2 linked regions of the Homo sapiens genome follow. Changing the gene in region 2 together with the main gene of any one other region gives a genetic interaction. Each region holds a gene or a part of one and is shown on either strand. Other genes may lie near its edges.

What was found. Genes that interact genetically often act in the same process or in processes that back each other up.
Region 1: of RHOG (region 2) and ATG7, changing one enhances a phenotype caused by changing the other (phenotypic enhancement), as found in Homo sapiens cells (one large-scale study listed by BioGRID).

The regions. Positions count from the first base shown.
Region 1 is NC_000003.12:11,359,397-11,362,896, forward strand, and holds part of ATG7 (ubiquitin-like modifier-activating enzyme ATG7), read left to right. Parts: intron 1-1,184; coding exon 1,185-1,388; intron 1,389-3,416; coding exon 3,417-3,500. UniProt on the Homo sapiens protein: E1-like activating enzyme involved in the 2 ubiquitin-like systems required for cytoplasm to vacuole transport (Cvt) and autophagy.
Region 2 is NC_000011.10:3,830,960-3,834,459, forward strand, and holds part of RHOG (rho-related GTP-binding protein RhoG), read right to left. Parts: intron 1-3,500.

The DNA.
Region 1 (3,500 bases), on a different chromosome or scaffold from region 2:
AAAAAACGGTTTCTTAAAAATTTATGTGTTGGGCTGGACATGGTGGCTCACATCTGTATCCTAGCACTTTGGGAGGATTGCTTGACCCAGGAGTTTGAGACTAGCCTGGGCAACATGGTGAGACTCTCTCTCTAGAAGAAAAACAAAAAATTAGCTAGGTGTGGTGATGCACACCCGTGCTCCCAGCTACTCAGGAGGGTGAGGCAGGAAGATCACTTGAGCCTGGGAGGTTGAGGCTGCAGTGAACCGAGATCACGCCATTGCATTCCAGCCTGGGCAACGGAGTGAGATCCTGTCTCAAAAAAACCCCAAAGAAACAAAAAAACAAAAAAAAACCAACTATGCGGAGCCAGGCATGGTGGCATGTGCCTGTAATTCCAGCTACTGGGATACCAAAAAAATTCTATGTGAAGGGTGAATTATATGGTATGTGAGTTATATCTCAATAAAGCTGTTATAAAAACAAATCTATGTGAACATGACAGTATAGCATAATGGTGGAAAGAATGTGTTTGAGAACTATGTAGACTTGGTTTTATATACCTACCTCTTGCCAGATAAGTGACCTTGGGCAAGTTATAGAACTAACTTCTCTGACTTTCAGTATCCTCATCTATAAATAAGAAATGTTTGTTATGAGTTTTTTTGTTTGCTTTTTTCTTTTTCAGAGATAGAATCTTGCTCTGTCACCCAGGCTGGAGTGCAGTGGCGGAATCTCGGCTCACTGCAAACTCCATCTCCCAGGTTCAAGCATTTCTCATGCCTCTGCCTCCTGAGTAGCTGCGACTACTGGCGCAAGCCATCATGCTCGGCTAATTTTTTGTATTTTTAATAGAGACAGGGTTTCGTCATGTTGCCAGGCTGGTCTCGAACTCCTGACCTCAGACAGTCTGCCCGCCTTGGCCTCCCAAAGTGCTGGGATTACAGGTTATGAGCCACTATACCTGGTCTGTTATGAGTTTCAAATGAAATTAAATGAGATAATTTATGTTCATCACTTATCAAGTCTTTTGTAATTAATAAGCCCTCAGTAGTGGGTAGATTTTATCATCATTAGCTTTTATAATCTAATTACACTTACATGCAAAAAATAAATTTTAAAAAGTTGAGCAAATATGGAATTAGCCACAGCTTGAAATATATGTGTCTTTTAACTCTGCTCTTTCATTCCTTGAAACCTGCAGCTGGTCATCAATGCTGCTTTGGGATTTGACACATTTGTTGTCATGAGACATGGTCTGAAGAAACCAAAGCAGCAAGGAGCTGGGGACTTGTGTCCAAACCACCCTGTGGCATCTGCTGACCTCCTGGGCTCATCGCTTTTTGCCAACATCCCTGGTTACAAGCTTGGCTGCTACTTCTGCAATGATGTGGTGGCCCCAGGAGATGTAAGTGGATTTCTCTATAGTTCCAAATATTTCCTATCACCAACTTGTACACTGAGGCAGACCGACTTGGCCCTTTCATTTATGACTATTTAAATATTATCTTTTAACAAAGAGAAGAATTCTCCAATTTGGGGAGGATGGCATTATCTCATTATGAACCTTGACTGGCGTCATCAACTGTACACCTGTTCCTTGTTCACCAATATAAACGCGGCTACAAACCATATTTTTGGAAAGCTTATTGAGGAAACCACAGCAGACTAGTCCCTGATAGCACTCCGTATTGTCTCCGGTGCTTCTCTTAGTCAAGATAACATTACAAATCAGGAGTCTAAAGACCAGATTCCATCAATGGCTTGACACTGCCTCCCAGGTAGTTCTAAAAAGTCTCTTAGGTTCCCTCTACCTTTGCAAAATAGGAGTGATGTGTAGGCTTGTCAGATTTAGTAAGTAAAAATATAGGATTCCCAGCTAACTTTGAATTTCAGTTAATAATGAATTCTTTTTTTTTTTTTTTTGAGACAGAGTTTCGCCCTGTCACCCAGGCTCGAGTGCAGTGGCACAATCTCGGCTCCCTGCAACCTCTGCCTCCTGGGTTCAAGTGATTCTCCTGCCTCAGCCTCCTGAGTAGCTGAGATTACAGGTGTGTGCCACCATGCCCAGCTAATTTTTGTATTTTTAGTAGAGACGGGGTTTCACCATGTTGGTCTGGCTGGTCTCGAACTCCTGACCTCGTGATCCACCTGCCTCAGTCTCCCAAAGTGCTGGGATTACAGGTGTGAGCCACCACGCTTAGCCAATAATGAATAATTTTTTGGTATATGTCCCATGCAATATTCAAGACCCACTTATACTAAAAATTTATTTATCTGAAATTCAAATTTAACTGAGTGTCTTGTATTCTCCCTAGCAATGCTAATAGAGGAGGGAAGAATACCTGCCCTGTCAACTCACAGTGCAAAGTGGGTCAAGTGCGACAGTGCTTTGAACAGCAAGACTACACTGTACAAATTAAGATTCTATGACTTTCAGAACTCCACACAAGTCAGTCTGTATGTAGGTCTGTTCCTTTATCAGAACAGATAACGATTTCCAGTGAAACAATGCAGAGATGTTTTCTGTAACCTCCCCTCTATTTTTCCTTTGTTTTAAAACTTTTCCCTTAATAACTCATATCTCTTTTGGATGACTGGCTTTTATGCCCTCCCAATATAAAGAAAAGAAGATGACCATTCTCTTTTATGGAGAAAGATGGCTTGATGATCTCTGTTATGGTGTTATAATATATAGCTGGTCTTGTTATTTAGTGATTGTCAACAAATACGATTAGTGGTCCCTTGCAGTAAAGTCCCATCTGCTCATAAGGTAAAATTTTTATAGAGTCAAAAATATCTCTAACAACCTCTTAATTTGCCCAGAGTTGGATGGTTAGACTCTCTTTGGTTGAACCAGCAAAGGCTTGTGCTTAGAGCCATGTTGTAGAAAAAAAAAATACTTGTAGTAAACCCTAGAATCACACAGAGAGGTGATGCCCATGTTGTGAGAGGCACATAGGAACTGAGGGCCGCAGGAATAGTAAATTGTTGCTCCCATCTCACGGTCACTTTGAGGTGTTAGCTCAGTTAAAATGGCAGGGCAGAATCATTTGCACTTTTCAAATCATTGTTCCTTTCTGTGTCTCTGTCACTTAACTACCAAGCACAGTAGAACTGAATTGAGTCACTTAAAGGAACACATGATGCAGTTCCATTATATGAGGCAGCTAAGCCCTCATTTTTGGTTAATATCCCCCAATCTGTTTAGGCTACTGATCCTTTTTAGCATATCACCTCATTTAGTTACCTAAATTGTATATTTTGTTTATCTTGATAATCTCAAGAAATGATGTACTTGAGGCTGGATGTTCTTTGCCAACAATGAGCATCTGGTTATAATTTAAAGCTTTGTCACAGAGGATTTCATACTTGAGACAGCTAGAGTTGAATGGAGTAGAACGTTCTGCACACACCAATGATTGTTTCTTTGCAGTCAACCAGAGACCGGACCTTGGACCAGCAGTGCACTGTGAGTCGTCCAGGACTGGCCGTGATTGCAGGAGCCCTGGCCGTGGAA
Region 2 (3,500 bases):
ATGTGACTTCCTTTCCCTGACTGTCTCCCACAACCAGGGCCTGCTCCCTGAGAGGGGGCAGCCCTGTTTTAAACACAACCAAATCCCTGAGTATTCCTTATCCCTGGCTCCACCCAAGCACCATCAACACTAGCCCATTTTCTCCATTTCACTTGCTATACTGCAAGGCTGCACCCTGGTCTGGGAACCCCTTACCCCCCCAGCCTGGGCTCTCACCACTGGTTCAGAAGCTTCAAAAATCAATGACAAGTGGGGAAGAAAATCCCCACTGGGAAGTGGAAAAGAAACTTTCGTCATGTGGGGGCTGCAAAGGACCCAGGGCTTGGTCCCACCTCCCTCCCAGGCTACAGTTTGCCTTGGAATCAGCTGGGAGAGGAATGGTTTCACTCTATGAAGTTGTGTCTCTGGTTCACATTAAAAAATATTTCCATCCTATTTGCATGAATGAGAGAGAGTGTGTGTGTGTGTTTGTGCGCGTGCACGTGTGCATGCAACGTCAGGACATTCAGATAGAGACCCTCAGACAGTGGGTCAGGGAAGGGCATAAGGACCCTCTAGGCCAGTGGAGAGTCAAATAGAGACCTCAGACTGGAAGTTGAGAGACCTAAGTTCTAACCCCAGCTCTGCTGACTCACTATAACCAAGCATGAGGCATTTACGCTTGCTGGGCCTCAGTTTTCCTATCCAGGAATTAGAGATTAAAATGGTTGTTACAAGAGCACTAGGTGGATGAACTAAGACTTAAAGCTCCTTGGAGGCAGGGGGCATTATTTGTGCCCAGCGGATTACGTGGGAAGCCTTGACATTCAAAGCAGAACTCCTGGGCCTGTAATCTTCAGTTCCACACAGAGCAGGAGAGTGGGTGTTGACAGTATGACTGAAAAGCCCAGCACTGGGCTGGCCCAGGCAGGAAGGCAAGGAGGGAACTCCGGCTGGCTGTCACAAGGCCCAAGAGACTGGAAGTACAGCTCTCTAAAGAGGTGGTTATCAACTAGCAATCAGTAAATCAGCTCTCAAAGGAGAGGGGAAGGACAGCGTAGCTTCCGGGCTGGGAAGGGAACGAGGACCGACACTGGAAAAGGATGATGAGTATGGTAGTGTCCAGAAACAAGCAGAGCAAAGGCAGTGTGGTATAGGGCCAAGAGTACTGGATACCTGACTCTGATGTCTTGAGTTTATCTGCCGACCTTGACCCTTGATAAAAAAGCCCTCATATGGTATAAGCCTTTATAGGTCACATGTTATTATGTCATTTGACCTTTATAACAACCTGTTAGTACTATGCCTATTCTACAGATGAGGAAACAAATTCAGAACAGTAAAAGTAACTCAACATCACACAGCTAGTTAGTGTGGGAGCCAGAACACAAACCCAGTTTTGTGACCCAAAGTCCTGTGTTTTCCTTGGTGCATCATACAGTCTTCAAGTTACCCCTTACCAGCTAACTGTGTGACCTTGATCAGGTAAGTTACTGCCCTTCCTGGAGCCTCTGTTTCTTTATCTGTACAGTAGAAGTAATAATAGTACCCCTCCCAGCCTCAAGGGCAGCATCAAGGAACCTGACCATGGGAATGAATACACTTTGTAAACTGAAGTGCTGTACACACAGGAGGTGACAGGAGCAAAGCCTTTCATCCCAGAAGGCAGGAAGCACTGAGTATGCCTGTATCTGTGGTAGGGGATCAGCCCAGTCCTCCCTACTCAGGTCTAGTTCAGACCTTTATCCTCTCTCCCAAAACAACTCTTCTTTCTGAAATCCTCTGGCCTGAACTGGGTTGAATAAGTTACCATAGCCCATTTCAGGAGGGCATATAGAGTCTAAACTGTGCCAAACAGGAAGAAGGGATGTCAGTGCTGCAGGACACCAAACCAGGAGTGTGACCTATCTGGAGCGGGGTTCAACAATGACTTATTCACTAAGTGGCTTTTTCAAAAGAATCATTAAGCCCAGCTCAGTGGTGCACCTGCAGTCCCAGCTACTAGGGAGGCTGGGCCCAGGAGTGAAGGGTTGTAGTGTGTACACTAGTCAAGGTTATCGTCCCTGTGAGTAGCCACTGCACTCCAGCCTGAGCAACACAGCAAGACCCCATGTCTCAAAAAAAAAAAAAGTTATTTAGTAAATCAATGGTTGCCAATCTGTTTTGTTTTGTTTTTTCTTTTGGAGCAAGGTCTTGTTCTGTTGCCCAGGCTGAAATGCAGTGGTGCCATCACAGCTCACTGTAGTCTCAACCTCCCAGGCTCAAGGCATCCTACCTCAGCCTCCTGAGTAGCTGGGACTACAGGCAGGCACCACCACACCTGGCTAATTTTTGTATTTTTAATGCATCTTTTTGTTTGTTTGTAGAGACAGGGTCTTGCCATGTTGCCCAGGCTGGTCTTGAACTCCTGGTCTCAAGTGATCCTCCTGACTAGCCCTCCCAAAGTGCTGGGATTATGGGCGTGGGCCACCATGCCTGGCCAGATCTGTATGTTATTAGACAAATTACAATGACTTATTCTGGCTTTTTAGTCCCAATTCAGATCATGCCTGGTCCCTCATACTGGCATTCAGAGTTCTTCACAATTTGATAAGGGATATTAGAGTTACGTAGACTTGGGTTTGAATCCTAGTTCTGCCTCTTACCAGCTGTGTGACCCTGAGCTTCTGATGATTTGCCTCTCTAAGCTTCAATTTCCTTATCTTTCAAATGCAGTGGCAACGTACAGTACCTACCACATAGCACTGTTATAAGGACTAAGTGCATTAATGTATAATATGTGCACAATGTAGGTACTTTGCAAGTGTGAGTTCCCAGCTCCCTGTTCCAGAGGGATTTTCAATGTCCTCTGCAAACAAGCCAGGATCATTCTTGCCTCTGAACTTTTACTCTTTGTTTTTCCCTCTGCTGCCATTCCCTCTCCCTTCTCTAATCTTCCTTACTCCTTAAGGCCTAACTTAAGTCTCACAGTTGCATAAGGTTACTGAATTCTTCTTTGGATATCCATTGCATGGCTACCTGTCGCCCAGGTTAGAGTGCAGTGTCGCGATCTCAGCTCACTGCAATCTCCACCTCCCGGGTTCAAGTGATTCTCCTGCCTCAGCCTCCTGAGTTATTGGGATTACATGCATGTGCCATCATGCCCAGCTAATTTTTGTATTTTTAGTAGAGACAGGATTTCATCATGTTGGCCAGGCTGGTCTTGAACACCTGGCCTCAAGTGATCCACCTGCCTTGGCCTCTGAAAGTGCTGGGATTACAGGAGTAAGCCACTGCACCCATGGCCACCCCTTTTAACCCTGCTTTGGCTCTGTGTGATTCTCCTTTTCCAACAGTCATACGTAAGTTTCCCAGCTGTACATGCCCTTCAGTACTGAAGCCTTGGCTTCTCTGGACTAAATGACAAAAAAAAACCTCTAAGTATAGGGCTAGGCACACAGGACTGTACAACCATTGCCTTTTGATCTGCTTGTACCAGCCCTCATCACTGAGATATGGAGAGACTTCTCTGAAGCCCAGTA